Regions from separate parts of the Homo sapiens genome. Here region 1 is linked to region 2. A link means that fine-mapping ties the variant in region 2 to the plasma level of a protein whose gene starts in the linked region. Region 2 holds a variant in brackets. A gene starts in the other region. All regions are shown on their forward strands.

Region 1 (8,896 bases), not on the chromosome of region 2:
TGCCTGGCGTAAGTCTGGAAGCCTGCAGGCTCCCGACCCAGGATGGCTCTGAACGAACACTGTTACTAACACACACACTGGGCTGCCTTAAGCAACTGTTCTTAAAAGTCAACACAGTTGTACCCATGGGACACTAAAAGCAGGGAAAAGATAAAGCAGGGAGACAAAGCAACTGGAGAAAAAATACATGAAATCATTCCCAGGCTTTGCAATATATATGAATAGACAGACGGACGGGCGAGTAGACCTTTAGCACAATGACCTTTAGCACAATCCTCCAGGGTAGGGAAAATGTGTGGCATGCTGGAGCCAGGGCAGGGAGAGACGGGCTCTGGAGAGCCCAAAGGCTGAGAAAATCAAAGGGGCCACGAGGTGGGGGGTCTCCTCAGAGCTCTGGCTGAGCCCAAGGCTCCAGCAGTACTTCCCTTTCTCACCAGCACTTCCCATTTCATTCTAGGTGGAAATATTGAAACAGGTGCTACAGCAATTCAACTGAGGAAGTTATGGATAGATTCTATTGCTTATTATCTTTTTTTTTTTTTTTTTTGAGATGGGGTCTTGCTTTGTTGCCCAGGCTGGAGTGCAGTGGCATGATCACAACTCACTGCAGCCTTGACCTCCTGGGCTCAAGCGATCCTCCCACCTCAGCCTCTTGAGTAGATGGGACTACAGGTATGCAATCACCACGCCCAGCTAATTTTATTTTTATTTTTAGTAGAGATGACTACTATGTTGCCCAGGCTGGTCTTGAACTCCTGGGCTCAAGAGATCCTCCTGCCTTAGCCTCTCAAAGTGTTAGGATTACAGGCGTGAGCCACTACATTTGACCTTAATATCTTTGGGTTATATGTTTTATGAGGTTTTTTTGTTTTGTTTGTTCGTTTGTTTTTAAGAGACAGTGTCTCTTGTTGCCCAAGCTGGTGTGCAGTGGTGCGATCATGGCTGACTGCAGCCTTGAACTCCTGGGCTACAGTGATCCCCCCACCTCAGTCTCCTGAGTAGCTGGGGCTAAAGGCATGCAACACTACGCTCAGCTAATTTTTTGTTTTCATAGAGACAGGGTCTCGCAATGTTGCCCAGCCTGGTCTTGACTTCCTGAGCTCAAGCAATCTTCCTGCCTCAGCCTCCCAGAGTACTGGGATTACAGGTGTGGGCCACCGTACCCAGACATGTGTGCTTTTCTGACCCAAGGATGATCCAGAAGCAGAAGTCCCTACTGTAAAATTGCTCTCCCAATCCTGGGATATAATTTTGAGCCCAGAGAACAAACCCATGAATCCATGAGAGGACCGCAAAGCCAGGTCCTCAGAACTTCTCTGCAGTCCCAGGAGAGCATCCTGCGCTCCTGCCCCTGTAAATTTCCCTTCTTTTTCCCCGTTGGTACACATTAGACCTGTGATTCTCCACAAGTGCACGGGAATCACTGAAAACCTTGTCAGATACAGCCAGTATGGGAGGGTAAGATTCTGCATTTCCAACAAGCCCCCAAAGTGCTCCTCTGATCTCACTTTGGGCAGCAAGACCCCAAGAGGGCATAACGCAGGACTCTGACATTCGTTACTCAGTCTTCAAATTCAGAAATTGCAAACAAGCACCCCTAGATATGTCTTTTTGTCCCCATGGAGTATGAGAGGCAGTGGGAGGGCAGGCCTTGTGAGCCCTGCTCACATAAGGGACTGGAGGAGCACTCAGGCCTGGGGGTCCCTGCTCTGGCTACCCTGTGCCCTGGGTCTCCCAAAACCTGGTCTCCTGCTTTCCAGGCCCTGCCCAGCTCCTTTGCTTGCTGACAGGTTGAATGCCTCCTCCTTCTCCCCAGAAGAGAACCCCCTTCCACTATTCCAGTGGTCAAGATTTGTTTACATACAAATGTCTAAACGATAAAATGGCATTATAACAGTGTCAGGACTGAACAGGCAGAAGCCACCTGGAAATGGGGAGACGGAGCGCAGAACCTGATTTATCCAGTCACCATGGTCCTGAAAAGCTATCACACAAACAAAATGACATAGATAGCTAGATAGAGATATACAGAGAGGTTTTTTTTTTTTTTTTTTTTTTGAGACAGAGTCTGCTCCGTCACCTAGGCTGGAGTGTAGCGGCGCGATCTCGGCTCACTGCAGCCTCCGCCTCCCACGTTCAAGCGATTCTCCTGCCTCAACCTCCCGAATAGCTGGGACTACAGACATGCACCACCACACCTGGCTAATTTTTGTATTTTTAGTAGAGATGGGGTTTCACCATGTTGGCCAGGCTGGTCTTGAACTCCTGGCCTCAGGTGATCTGCCTGCCTTGGCCTCTCAAAGTGCTGGGATTATGGGCGTGAGCCACTACGTCCAGCACAAAATGAGATATATTTGAAGTACATATTAAAGTAACCAAAGGAAATAATTTTACAGTAAAATCTTACAAAAAGCTCAAAATCCTGGTGTAAAATATCTAATCACCTTTGAGCTTAGTTCTGGTTTATATCCAGCTTTTCATCTGTCAATTATATTGGAAAAAGAGAGGCACTGCCCAGGTCTCAGGAGGGCCCCTTTGGAGGCTGCAAGGAACCTCCCTTTCCCCGGGCGTGAAGACCCTGAGCCCTGCCATGCTTGGTCTGCAAGGCTGGCTTCCAGGCCAGCACCCAGACACCACTCCCAAAACAGGTTTTCTGCAGTTTTGGGTCTGCACTCTCAAAACAGTTTCTGCACAGCAAGAAAATGCATGTAGAAGTGGAAAGAAGGAAGGCAGGAAACAGATACATAACCACTTTAGCTCTACTGGCTTCCCCCCCCAAAAAAAACCTAGCTTCCGACCTGCTCCGAATGACTTGAGGTGAAAATCTACAGAGGCTAAAGAGATGTCCTTGCAAAAATGCTACTTCCAGCTCTACCTGCTCCAGCCAGGCCAGCATCAATGTGAGAGGAGAGAGAGAAATCAATTAGGCAAATAGTTAGGGCAAGGGTCCTTGGCAGAATTCCCTTCTAACAAAAAGCAGCCTAAGAAGTCGTTGCCCTTTCAGGAAACACAGATAAGGAAGGCAAGCTCTAACACAGAAAGCGGGTCCCCTGTGTGACATACAGACATATGGTGGGCCCCAGTAAGCACAGTCCTCTCCCTTCTTAGAAATACTCAAGACACGGCCGGCCACGGTGGCTCACGCTTGTAATCCCAGCACTTTGGGAAGCCGAGGTGGGCAGATCACGAGGTCAAGAGATCGAGACTATCCTGGCCAACATGGTGAAAACCCATCTCTACTAAAAAAATACAAAAATTAGCCAGGTGTCATGGTGCTCGCCTGTAATCCCAGCTACTTGGGAGGCTGAGGCAGGAGAACCACTTGAACCCGGGAGGTGGAGGTTGCAGTGAGCTGAGATCACACCACTGCACTCCAGCCTGGCAGCAGAGTGGGACTCCGTCTCAAAAAAAAAAGAAAAAAGAAATACTCAGACACAGAGGCTTGCATGGCACTGATAAGAAGAGCTACCCTGGACCAGGCATGTCTACCTTGGAGTGTTCTTCCCCCCCACCACCCAACCTTTTTCACACATGCACAGTAGGAAGAAATAAGCAACATGGAGTAGTAACTCAGGCTAAGAAGCCCACATGTGCACTAGAAACAGTGGGGCGGGGGACTCAGAAATTCGCACCTTATGTAAATGAAGCACCCCTCCCACCAGCTTTTCTATAAAAACCCTTGCATTTCACTGTAAAATGGCAACCCATCTTTCTGGGACCCCTCTCTGATCCAGAGAGCTTTCTTTCTTTTGCTTATTAAACTTCTGCTCTAACCTACCCTCTGGAGTGTCTGCGTCCTTGATTTCCTTGGCCATGAGACCCAGAACTTCAGTGATATCTCAGACAATGAGGCAGGTTTCACTGAGACACAAGCCCAGGGTTCTGCAGAATGGGAGGGCCAGCAGCTATCACTGCGTGTGTGAGGGCAGGCAGAGGAAGTCACTGTGTTTTAATAGTCCAGCACCACGGGTAGAGATGTTGTGGCTGACTCCATCCAAGGTTCAATTTCTTTGTAGTAATCATTTCAGAAGTTAGAGCATTAACAGGCTCTTGTTGGGGAAGAAAGGTTAGTAACTCCATCTCCTGAGCCCTTGCTAAAAAGCTCAGCTTCCTGAATTCTCCAGGCTCACCAGATTGAGAGGGAAGCCCACCCTGCTCCTTCTCCCACCGCAAGGCTGCCTTTGTCTGTAAATGACAGGGAAGTGGGTGAGGAGGGAGGATGGGGACAGACCTTAGGGGGTGGGAGTGTGGCTCCCCCTCCCCCACTGTATCACACCTATTTCACACTCAGATTTATCCACATACCAGGCCTTGATCACAGGAAGCCCATCTGCCAGCCACAGGGAAGGCAAATGCCAACTGGAAGCCCCGGTTTCTTGCAGGCGCCCAGGCTGCTCTGACAGGTACAGAGAGACGGAGACAAGCCCATCTCACCGAGAGCGGCCTAGCTTTCTGAGTTTGGACCAGATTGTAAGAGATAAGGGAGAGGAAGGCTTCAGATAGCTATGAAGAGAGCTATCTGACCTCCAAGTACCCTTTTCTTTAACAAAAAATTAGATCTGGCTCTTGTCAACATTGACCTCCCACCTCTCCATACCCCAGCGCAAAGGCAGTAGGTGGATCCCACCAGCAAACAGTTTTGGATTAGCTCATAGTTGTTGTTTTTTTAAAACAAATTAGTTGCCAATATTTAAAAATCAGGAGATTTTGCATGCACCTCAGATTCCTGATTTCTCCTGAAAAATCAGAAGACCAGATCACATTGGACCTGCCATTCTGTGTAGCAATGGAGGCCAGGGCTGAGCAGGGGCCGTCCCCTGCCCACCCCCATACAGCAGGGCCCTGCCCTCCCTACCCCAGCTCCTCCTGGCAGCATGCACCTTACCTATCTACTTGATCAATAAACAGATCACTTCAAAGCTTCTCAAAGTATCCCTCTTTCTTTTTTTCTTTCTTTCCTTCCTTCCTTCCTTCCTTTTCTCTTTCTCTTTCGTTCTCTCTCTCTCTCTTTCTCTTTCCCTCTCCCCTTCCTTCCTGCTTTTTGTTGTTGCTGGTGTTGTTGTTGTTTTTTCCAGAAACGCAGTCTCCCTGTGTTGCCTAGGCTGGTCGGGAACTGGCCTCAAGCAATTCTTCCGCCTCGGCCTCCCGAGTAGCTGGAACTACAGGTGCTATTCCAAGATGGTGAAACCCCGTCTCTACTAAAAAATACAAAAATTGGTCGGGGTGGCTCACGTCTGTAATCCCAGCATTGCAGAAGGCTGAGGCAGGTGGATCGCAAGGTCAGGAGTTTGAGATTAGCCTGGCCGATATGGTGAAACTCCGTCTCTACTAAAAATACAAAAAAATTAGCCAGGCTTGGTGGTGTCGCCTGTAATCCCAGCTACTAGGGAGGCTGAGGCAGGGGAATTGCTTGAACGAGGGAGGTGGAGGTTGCAGTGAGCCGAGATCGCGCCATTGCACTCCAGCCTGGACAACAGAGCAAGACTGTCTAAACAAAAGCTCAACAAACTACCTGCCATCCCCAAAACTAATCTCACCTCCTAAAGCATTAACGACCCTTCCTGACCAAATCTAAACTAGCGCCCAGATTTTCTTCCCATATGGCTCAGCCCAGCTCCGCTGCCCCACAGGTGTCCTGTCAGGATCCGCTTCACATTTATAATACCTAGCACCCCACCCCCAGCCCCGCCCCTGCCCCACCAGCCACCCCCACTCTACCCCACCCCTACCCATCACATTCCGCACCCCACCCCCGCCAAACCCACATCCCCACCCCACCCAACCTCACCCACTCCCACCACATCCACCACCCGCACCCCACCCCCACCCACCACACCCATGCCTACGCCACTCCTGGGTGACAGCGAGCCAGGGCCCGGGACTCTAGTCCCAGCTCTGCTGCTTACTTGTGTGACTTCAGCCTCTCCATGCCTCAGTTTCTCCATAGGGACAATGACTACACTAACAGTGTCCACCCCGGCACCGGGAGGGCCGGGCTCCCGGCAGGGCGGGGACCCTCTCCCCAAGGCACTCCCGGGTCTCCAGGCCTGCTCTTGGGGTGCCCCCTCCTCTCGCGGGGCGCGGCCTGGGAGGCGCCCCGCCCCGGCTCCGGGCGCTCCTTTACCTGGGGGAGCGGAGGTCTACGCGGCGCGCTCGGCGATCAGACGCGGCTGCAGCCCGGGCCTGGCAGGCCCCGGGCTCCCCGCCCAGCTCCCCAGCCCCGCGGAGGGTCGCGCAGGCCTTGGTGGCGGCCCCGGCGCTGGCCCCGCCCTCCGTCCCACCTTCCGGCTGCGCCGGGCCTTCCGGGAAGCCACGCGCCGGGCCAGCTCCTGGCTCCGAGCTGCGCCCGGCCTTAGGGGGAGCCGGGGGTCGCTGCTGGGCACCCCCTCCCCGGTCCTGGCCCACCCCGCCGCTGTCACCGGGGCCCTGGCTTGGGTTGCGGGTGGCGTAAGGAGACGAGGCGCCCGGAGAAGAGTCCTGGGAACCGCAAGGCCGCGCTCCCGCAGGCCCAGCCCTGCCTTTCTCCCACGCGCACGCATGATCACATCCGGGCCCCGCGCACCTGCCTCCAGGACCGCGGGGACCTCCCGGAGACCTCCCTCCCTTTGGCCTGGAGGACCCCTCTCTCCCCGCAGCCTGGGCACAGAAGAGAGCACAGGGGCATCTGGAGGTCAAGGGTGCTGCGTCAGTATTTGGTGAATGTGTGGGCCGGAGCCAGATTTCCTCTGTTCCAGAGCCTGCTCTGGAGCCTCTGGGTCTGGGGGTTGCAAAAGGAGAAGCAGGTTGGGTGGGACTCGTAATCCCAGCTGCCAGTGAGGCTGAGGAGGGAGGATTGCTTGAGCCCAGCAGTTCGAGCGTGGGCAACACAGTGACATCCCATCTCTACAAATAATAATAAAAATTAGGCCGGGTGGGTGAGTCATACCTGTGACCTACAGCATTTTGGGAGGCTGAAGCGGGAGGATTGCTTGAGCCCAGGAGTTCGAGGCTGCAGTGAACTATGATCCCACCACTGCACTTCAACCTGGGTGACAGAGTGAGACCGTCTCTTAAAGAAAGAAAAAAAAGGAAAAGAACTGGCTTTGCTCTTAGGAGTCTTGGATGGGGACCAAAGCTGAGGCAAGGCAGCCTCTTAGGAAGGTGCAAAGGGCATGAGGCTGGGGTTGCAGAACTGCCTGGGAATACTACTTTATTGAGGCCTGTGGAAAGCTGTCCCTACTCTTGTCATGCAAGGTCTGGCCTTGAACCATCTCAAATCCAAAAGTGGCTTCTGGGGGGCTCTATAGAGAATTAATCCTAACAGGAACCCTGCAAAGCAGGCATGGTTGTCACTGCTATATTACAGATGGGAAGCTCTAAACACAGGCTGCTCTGCCCAAGGCCATCCTGGTTAGAAAGTTTCAGGGCCCAAACTCCAGCCTCGGTCTCGGTATCTCAAAGTCTCCGCCTGTGACCAGCACTCTGCCTGCTTTCCAGGGTGCCATGGGCACCCAGAGGACGGACCCTTTTCCATTTTTAAAAGAATGGAACAAACGCTCTTAATACCAAGCTTCCCCAGGCCTTGGCTGGGATAAAACAACCCCATTTATTCCTGAATCGGAGCTTTTGCTTGAGTTTGGGTGACTTTCAAGAGGGAAAGTGAACTGAGGCCAGGGGAACTCAGCTTGCTGCCTTCCTGGGGCCTGAGTGTGGCGCTCCCGTTTCTCTGCGGGCAGCTCCCTCTGGCGGCACATTGCAGAACTGGCCTGCAGACTCCTCCCCCAGAGATAGTGGGGAAGAGGGCCTGTGTAGGGAAAGATGCTGGGAGTGAAAGAAGCTTCAAAGTCCAGGCCCTCCAGAGAAGGCAAGCATGTAAGAGGTTCATGCAGCCCAGCGCGGTGGCTCACACCTGTAATCCCAGCACTTTGGGAGGCCGAGGCGGGCAGATCACCTGAGGCCAGGACTTTGAGACCAGCCTGGGCAACATGGTGAAACCCCATCTCCACTAAACATGGAAAAATGAGCCAGACATGGTTGGTGCAAGCCTGTAGTCCCAGCTACTCGGGAGGTTGAGGCAGGAGAACCGCTTGGACCCGGCAGATGGAGGTTGCAGTGAGCCGAGATCGCGCCATTGCATGCAAATCTGCAACCCATCAGCCTCCTGGGCCTCATTCTGATACGAATGCAGGCATAACATGACCGCACACTCTGAACCCCAGAGATGGAGCACACAGTGCCTCATGCTCCTAAAGGCAACTGCGGCCTCCTGCACAGTGAGCAAGGCGTGCCGTGGGGTCTCGGTGGTGGCGCGGAAATGGCACTGGCCCAGCACACAGCGATGCTTTATGCTGCTTACAGTGACCTAGGGAAAGTTCTTCCACGTCTCCGTGCCTCAGTTTCCTCATCTGGGAAATGGCAACAAGAGTAGTACTTATCCTATAGGGTTGTTCTCAACATAAAAGGAGGTAATATATATGAATCTAGATTATTCTTGTTTACATTACAGAATGTGAAAATGAGCGGCTTCTCCAAAGTCCCATGAGCCTCATGGGCCCAAGGTAGTGGGAAATCCAGTTCTACCCCCACCTTGACAAAACATTCTCTTGCTGATGGGCCCAACAATGCCCTAGGGTGCTAGGTGGTGTTCACACGGCCAGCCAGAGTCAAAACTCAGACGGGGCCAGCGTTCTATGCCCTCACTTTCTCCCAAAGCTGAGTGCACCAGCTCCTAAAACTTCCATGGCTCCTTCAGGCTAAAGCCACCCACCTAGACCAGGGCTGGATGATCCGCAATGTGGGCCACACCCAAAAACCCTATAGCTTCTTTTGTTGTTTCTTTTTTTTTTTTTTTTTTTTTTTTTTTTTTGAGACGGAGTCTCGCTCTGTGGCCCAGGTGGGAGTGCAGTGGCGCAATCTC
Region 2 (7,893 bases):
CTGGATATGGTGGAAAGGATGCAGGTGTGCTTCAGGCATCTGGAGTCACAGTGTCCTTCCCTGCCTCCCTTACTAAACAGCTGTGCTTTTCTTGACAAGTTGCTTCCATTCTCCTGTGTCTGTTTATAGTTTTGAGCCGGTTCACTATGGTGATTCTGAGGTCTCTTCCAGTTCTGCCATGGTATGTATCCCATTTTGAAGCTGGAAACCTACCTAGATACAAGGTCGGTAGTGGAGTCAGTTTACATTTTAGGATCCTAAATAAAAAACAGCCAAGTCATTTGGGAGGGGGTCATGTTCTGTTTCTAGCTGTGGCTAGCTAAATAGATTCTAGTTACTGATCTGATTTCTACTCCTCTGGCTGGCAAAATCTGGACCATGTTGCCACTAGAAATCTGAATGCTGTCTCATTAAATGTTTACACTAACTAGGGATTTATTGGTAGAGACCTTAAACACTCTTTGAAGGTTTTCTCCCTGTTCTGATTGAAAGTAAACAATGGCAATAGTCAGATCATTATCAACGAGCTCCTCACCCTCATCAACAAATCCTTGCTTGATGTTATAAACACACACACACACCCACACACACCCCATCCCAAACCACCCAGAACTCTTTAGGCTGATAATTGTTTAATTGAGAAAAACAGGAAACAGAAGGTCCAAACAAAGCCAGAAGGGTTTTGTTTGTTTGTTTGTTTGCTTTGCTCATTTCTTCTCTTCCGTTTTGTTTTGTTTTAACAAGTGGGATGGAAGAGACGTTATTTCCCTGAAAAAATCTGCTGAATTGGCCAGGCGCGGTGGCTCATGCCTATAATCCCAGCACTCTGGGAGGCCGAGGCGGGTGAATCACAAAGTCAGGAGATCGAGACCATCCTGGCTAACCCAGTGAAACCCCATCTCTACTAAAAAAATACAAAAAATTAGCTGGGCGTGGTGGCGGGCGCCTGTAGTCCCAGCTATTTGGGAGGCTGAGGCAGGATAATGGTGTGAACCCGGGAGGCGGAGCTTGCAGTGAGCTGAGATCGTGCCATT[G/A]CACTCTAGCCTGGGCAACAGAGCGAGACTCCATCTCAAAAAAAAAAAAAAAATCTGCTGAATTGACTACCTAGGGAAATAAATGAGAAAATGACAATTTTAATCTGTTATTTGAACTAAGGTACTGCAAAGGTTGAAGGGAGGATCAAATTGAACGATGATTCACTCCTTCCTATAGAAAGACAATATCATTTTAAATCAAAATATCTTAACTGTTTATGAGAGGTCCCAGCTAGAATCACACAGTTCTGTACTCAGCCATGTAACCCTTGGACATTTGGCCAAGGTCCCTCAAATGCAAAGGTGCAAACTTGAGTTAATAAATTTCTTCCACACACCCTGACATAGATCATTCATTTACTTTTAAACAAATGTTTATTTTGTTTCTTCCTCTTTTAAATTACAAGAGAAAAACATTCCCGTAGTATATGTAGTTGGAGGTGAAGCTGGGGCCTCCTGAGTTGAGATATGACTGGCCATGGACTTAGGTACATTTCCTTGCCCCTGCCTGCCCCACCTGTAAACATCCAGTTGCACCTCGAATTGACTTGGGAGATGCAAAACCTTTCCAAGGAAGGCACTCAGTCACATATGATTCAGAAATATGAGAGCATGTCTAGCAAACTGTGGGAAAGGATCAAGAAGGAAGAGACGAGAAACTGGGATCAGCCACAAGGCCCGAGGGTGGTTCCAGGAAGAGCAAACTTTCCCTGGACACTGTCCCAGTTCACTCAGTATGAGTTGGCTCTGGCCAAGCTTCGGTTTGATTACACTGAACAAGCAGGCTCACAAGTCTCTGTAACTTGTTGGGGCAAGAAGGTGTGCATAACACAGAAAGGAGGGAGCGGTATGCCTTTTCACTTCACATCAGCTGTAAGCTATCTCAGCAGGAAATGGCTGAATATGGGAGGCTTCAGCTGTGAGAGGCAAGGTGCAGAGTTGAAAGCTGCCTGTGATCAGGCAGTAATGGCAGCAGGCAACAACTTATCAACTGAGGTGGAGTTTGACAAGGATGGTCGTGGTGGAGCTTGTGCCACAGGGACTAGCCCAGGTTAGCACCAATTGCTGGCTAGAGCCTGTGATCCCTTCTGAGTATTTTCCAGAAATACTTTCAGGAGGAGGTGGAAGGAACCTGGAAAATTGAGTAAGGTCCTGGGTATAAGTGGATGGGAGGTTAACAAGTTAATGTAGCTACATTATTACCCAGGAGTTTATAAAGCCTGGATACATTCAGGATACACAGGCAAGCAGGGAAGCATGGAAAAGTAAAGAACACTTTTCTAAAAGAAAAAAAAAACCCTCCAAAAACTAAATAAGTAAATCACAAAAACAAAACAAAACAACCACTAATAGCAGCTATATTCTCACCTCCTACTTAACCTTTGGATGATATCTCTTGTTTACAGGGGTGAGATCAGACTGTGTGTGTGCATAATTTTGAGTATGGTTGTTTTCTCATAAGACTATATAAAAATGCTGTGTTCTTTAAATCTGTATGAAAATTATACATGGATAGCATGGATATTTTTATAACATTCCCTGTAGAAAATTTGTAAAATATAGAAAAATAAAAAGGAAAAAAAGTACCCATAATCATACCATCTAGAGATCACATTGTCATTTTGGTGTTTCTCTTTCTAGACCTTTTTATGCATAAATATTGATTTCTGAACAATAGAAATCCAGAGAGGAAGCCCCAGTCACTCTCTCCACCCTCACATGTTTCTTGCATCATGAATTTTGGTAGTTTCTCCTATAGAACTTGGCCAATGCTGGTGACTAGACACATGGCGGGTTGACGTGAGGTGCTGTGGTTATTCCAAGAATGATAATTAATACGATACGTCTCCCCCGCCTCCTCCCATCCTTTCCACTTCAAAATATGAGTTTCCTGCAGCATATCATAGGCTGAGGCTATATTCTCTAACTAACCACACTTGGGCATTGGGGGCAGAAGGTAGCGTGTGGGGATTATTTTCATTTGCGTGCCTCTGAAAAGAAAGCTCTTGCACTGGGTGCCTGTTCTTCAGCTCCAGAAGCCCTTGGTTCTGAAAAGTGGATTTCCATGGTGACTGCTCTTGGTGCTGTTACAAACACGGTGGTTGTCTAGGCCAGGGTCAACCAGTCCTTGATGGGGCTTGAGGTCAGCAGGGTAGACTCAGCAAGGTAGACTTCAAGATGGCAGCAATGACCCTGTCTGCTGCCCAGACATTAGTCTCTGGCAATCATTTTCTGCAAACTGCAAATAGCATAAAGGATCATTTATGGAGATCCGTGGAGAGGAAGCCCTTCTCCTTTTTCCTCCCCATCTATGATGTCACAGTGACAGGCCATTCCTTTATCATAAAACTTTCTCAGAGGGACACAGATTTCAGGGGCTAAGCCCATATTTGTTGTTCATGTTTGCTGGTCTACAGGCTATTTGTGAAGGTCCAATCCAATGTTATGAAGCCTTCCTTAACCCTTACACCCTATAATCCTTGCAGAGTGTATCTTCTGCAAATGTTCACCAGACAAAGTGGAGCCTGTATTCAATTTTAAGAAATTAATACTTATGTTGAATATACTTTTCCAAAGTCTACACAGAAGATTCAAACTTATTTTCCCTTTGGAAAATTTCTGATGAAGAAAGTGACACCTTCAGGAGACTTTTCAGCAGTAATTAGAACGCTACTATAAAAATAGCATTGTATTGTATTGAAAAAATGTATTGTAAAAAAAAGTAGGTGCTTCAATTTATTGAGTACCTCCTTCATGCCTGGGTTCAAAATCAGGTTTTACCTTTTACTAGTTTTGTAATCTTGAACAAATCTCTTAACTTCGCCTGAGCTTTAGTTTGTTCATCTGTAATATGGGGTAATTATACTTACATAATAGAATTGTTATGAGAATTGAAACCAGGCAATACTTTTCAAAGTTGCTGGTACACAGTAATTGCTCAATATCTGTAATTCTCCTAGCTTTCTAGCACTCTCAATGAATTCTTCTGCATGCCTAATGTACATGTGTTCATATGTCAATATGCAATTAGGAAAAATGTATGCAAGTGGGAAGATCTTAAGCCTTATATGAAATTTCCATTTTTATAGTAGAATTGAAAAAGAAATTTGATTATATATACAGACAATTGCATGAGTCAGTTGAGTAAAGAACTGGTTGATTCAATCTTAAAATTAGTCCAACTTGTAATGTAAGCAAATTGATGGAGCTACTTGTGTGTGGAGTAACAGCTTTACTCTGTTTATGCTGCAAAGTTAAGAAAGGTTAGGAAATTCTGGCTCCAAATTGGTGAACATAGCAGTATTCCAGTCTCTCGTGTAGACTTAAAGCTAAAGGTATGATTACAGTTTCATTAATATTTTTTTCTTACAAAAGAAAATCTTTTCTAAATGTGTCCTACAATAAACCTGACTTTACTGGTCATCTAATAGTAGCCATAATTTTCATAATTAGTTGCAAATAAAACAAGAGTCTGCCTCATCCATTTCCAAAAGAAAAATTTCCGACTGATTGGGATAACCAAACTTACATTCCACAGGATATGCAAACTACATTTCCCTAGCAAATAGTTACTACTCTATGTCTTTTGCACAATTTATACTTTTCTGAGATCCTTAGCCTTTCATTTCCTAGTCAGCTGGCAGAGTTGGTGCTGCAGGATGCGCTGTGCATGCACAGTGTACATCACAAGGTGTAGATAGGTTAACCCTGTGGACATCCCACTGTGGAGGGAAGAGCCTACAGACCTGGGTGCTAGCCGCCCCACGGCCAGCCTCCAAAGCCTTGTCTGAACTTGAGTACATTATTTCTTGTCTCCTCGTCTGTAAAAAGTGGTTGTGGTGGTGGGGGGAGGATCTGACGTTCCTTGCAGCTCATAATTCTCTACTATTTAATATACAATGAATTAAAATATATATTAGAAGTCAAAAACTGAGTTGGTTTATTTTCAGCAATTTTGCAGTCATAGTTCCAGGGGTTTTCATCGAGAAAATCATAAATTAAAATAGCACTGTTTGTTTGTTTTGTCTGTCAAAGATACCTCAATTTGTACATGGACCATCCACAGGCAGAGATTGGCAGTTTGCTTTTCAATTGTTTTATCATGAACAGCTGTGTCTATCTGATAACTTCTTTATTACAGATTTTACCCATGACATGCCCGTGCCCCAGGAATAGGCAGAATGCCAGTCCTTTGTATTCTCACTTATTGTCAACACAGGAATGCCACATAACTAAAAGCAAAACATTTCAAAGATGTGAAAGTTCACCAGGACTAGCTACATCTGGAATACAAAACGGGAGTGTTCAGTGACTTAGGGCCTGGCTTTGGGTTGAGCCTGACTCTACCCTTGTCGCCTGCATATTCGTGGTGCCTACCACATCTGTGAAGGCTGTTCATTCACTCAATAAGTATGTAGTGAACCACAAGTATTAGTATTAGTGGCTACTTGGGAACCACATGCTAGACCCAGAGGTATACTAATGAGCAGAAGCAGACACAGCTCTGATACAGCTACCCTCACCCTCAAGAATTCATGAGTCAAGAACTGTAACTCCAACCTGCAACAACAAAGCAGGGAAGATGGCTACAGTTACCAAAACAGCATGTTACTGGTATGGAAACAGATACATAGACCAATGGAACAGAACAGAGGCCTCAGAAATAACACTACACATCTACAACCACCTGATCTTTGACAAACCTGACAAAAACAAGCAATGGGGAAAGGATTCCCTATTTAATAAATGGTGCTGGGAAAACTGGCTAGCCATATGCAGAAAACAGAAACTGGGCCCCTTCCTTACAGCTTCTACAAAAATTAACTCAAGATGGATTAAAGACTTAAACGTAAAACCTAAAAGCATAAAAACCCCAGAAGAAAACCTAGGCATACCATTCAAGATGGCATGGGCAAAGACTTCATGACTAAAACACCAAAAGCAATTGCAACAAAAGTCAAAATTGACAAATGGGATCTAATTAAACTAAAGAGCTTCTGCACAGCAGAAGAAACTATCATCAGAGTGAACAGGGAACCTACAGAATGGGAGAAAATTTTTGCAATCTACCCATCTGACAAAGGTCTAATATGCAGAATCTACAAGGAATTTGTTTCTTGTAAAACAAATTGACAAGAAAAAAACCACATCAAAAAGTGGGCAAAAGATATGAACAGATACTTCTCAAAAGAAGACATTTATGTGGCCAACAAACATGAAAAAAAGCTCATCATCACTGGTCATTAGAGAAATGCAAATCAAAACCATAATGAGATACCATCTCACTCCAGTTAGAATGGTGGTCATTAAAAAGTCAGGAAACAACAGATGCTGGAAGGATGTGGAGAAATAGGAATGCTTTTACACTGTTGGTGGGAGTATAAATTAGTTCAACCAGTGTGGAAGACAGTGTGGCAATTCCTCAAGGAACCAGAAATACCATTTGACTCAGCAATCCCATTACTGGGTATATACCCAAAGGATTATAAATCATTCTACTATAAAGACACATGCACACATATGTTTATTCCAGCACCATTTACAATAGCAAAGACTTGGAACCAACCCAAATGCTCATCAGTGATAGACTGGATAAAGAAAATGTGGCACATATACACCATGGAATACTATGCAGCCATTAAAAAGAATGAATTCATGTCCTTTGCAGAGACATGGATGAAGCTGGAAGCCATCATTCTCAGCAAACTAACACAGGAACAGAAAACCAAACACTGCATGTTCTCACTCATAAGTGGGAGTTGAACAGTGAGAGCACATGGACACAGGGAGGGCAACACACACACTGGGGCCTGTCGGGGGTGGGAGGCTAGGGGAGGGAGAGCATTAGAACAAATCCTAATGCCTGTGGGGCTTACAACCTAGATGATGGGTTGATGGGTGCAGCAAACCACCATGGCACATGTATACCTATGTAACAAACCTGCACGTTCTGTACACGTATCCCAGAACTTAAAGTAAAATAAAAAAATTTAAAAATAAAGAAATCTGTTTGCCAGAATTCACAAAGAGCAATAGACCTCATGTGAGTTATGAATCTGAACTTCATCCTGCTGTGTGCTATTGGATAAAGACTCTAAGAGCTACATTACAGATTTTTTCGACAGGAAGTATCACAGTAACAAGGCCCTATTTAAAGGCTGTTGCTACTGCTGTGGAACAGATTTACCCATTTGTGTTTGAAAGCAGGAAAGAAATTTTATCATTCACCACTTAATTGGTTAGAATCTCTTACTGTGCACCTTTTAAAACCTGCTGCACATTGGACTCAAAAGGAAAACTGAACCAACGGTAATTGAGGAAATAGACTCTTTTATTTATTCATGGCTACAGTGTAAGCTCCAGTCCCTTTGGATTTTATTCCAAACCTTGTTATAATATAAAAAAGGAAGTTTACAAGACATGTCATTGCTGCTTTTACAAAAGGACATTCTATTTATTTTCGCAGGAATTCTCATGTCCCCATAAGCAGAGCTGTCACAGTGTGCACTACCTTAGGTTGTTTTATTGTTGTCATTGTTATTTTTTTCCATTTTGAGCTAATGTGTTTTATCTGTGAATAGTCTTTTACATTTTTGTATGCTGAAAATGGGCACCAAAGAACCTGTAAAAATTATCTTTTTCAATTGAATGTGCACAAATAAAAGTTTGGAAAAGGAAAACAAAAGAACTACAAAGCATTTAGCAGAAAGCTTTCATGAAGAGTTGCAATGGCTGATATTATAAAATACACATACTTTTAAAAACAAAAAATCCCTCAGGAGTTTTGTTGCCCACATCTGCTAGTAACTAGTGAAGCCAGTTGTGTAACTGCACTTAGTTTACACAATTTCTTGAACTT

Alleles and levels. Alleles are on the strand shown, and positions count from the first base shown. The strength of an association depends on the size of the effect and on how common the allele is.
For the plasma level of the protein whose gene starts at base 6,261 in region 1, allele A in region 2 goes with a lower level than allele G (weak association).

The links. A credible set is the group of variants that fine-mapping cannot tell apart. PIP is the chance, under the fine-mapping model, that this variant and not a neighbour inherited with it causes the effect. Protein levels are from antibody-based Olink assays in UK Biobank. Linkage for the fine-mapping came from a reference panel and not from the study's own genotypes, which makes the PIPs less certain.
Region 1: it holds the start of C19orf12, and the variant in region 2 is the best candidate, but not a certain one, in a credible set for the plasma level of the C19orf12 protein (UK Biobank, PIP 0.83).

Annotation. Positions count from the first base shown.
Region 1 is chr19:29,709,001-29,717,896 of GRCh38, forward strand. It overlaps C19orf12 (chromosome 19 open reading frame 12), which reads right to left and starts at 6,261. Exons shown (of 3, transcript NM_031448.6): 1 at 6,125-6,261. RefSeq lists a silencer at 5,796-6,585 and enhancers at 6,756-6,855, 7,401-7,620.
Region 2 is chr3:172,515,193-172,523,085 of GRCh38, forward strand. The region is part of intron 1 of TNFSF10 (TNF superfamily member 10); the gene reads right to left. It also overlaps the pseudogene TBPL1P1. Among named protein-coding and RNA genes, the nearest start is that of TNFSF10, 4.3 kb to the right of the region's middle. The variant G/A (reference allele first, on the strand shown) is at 1,035.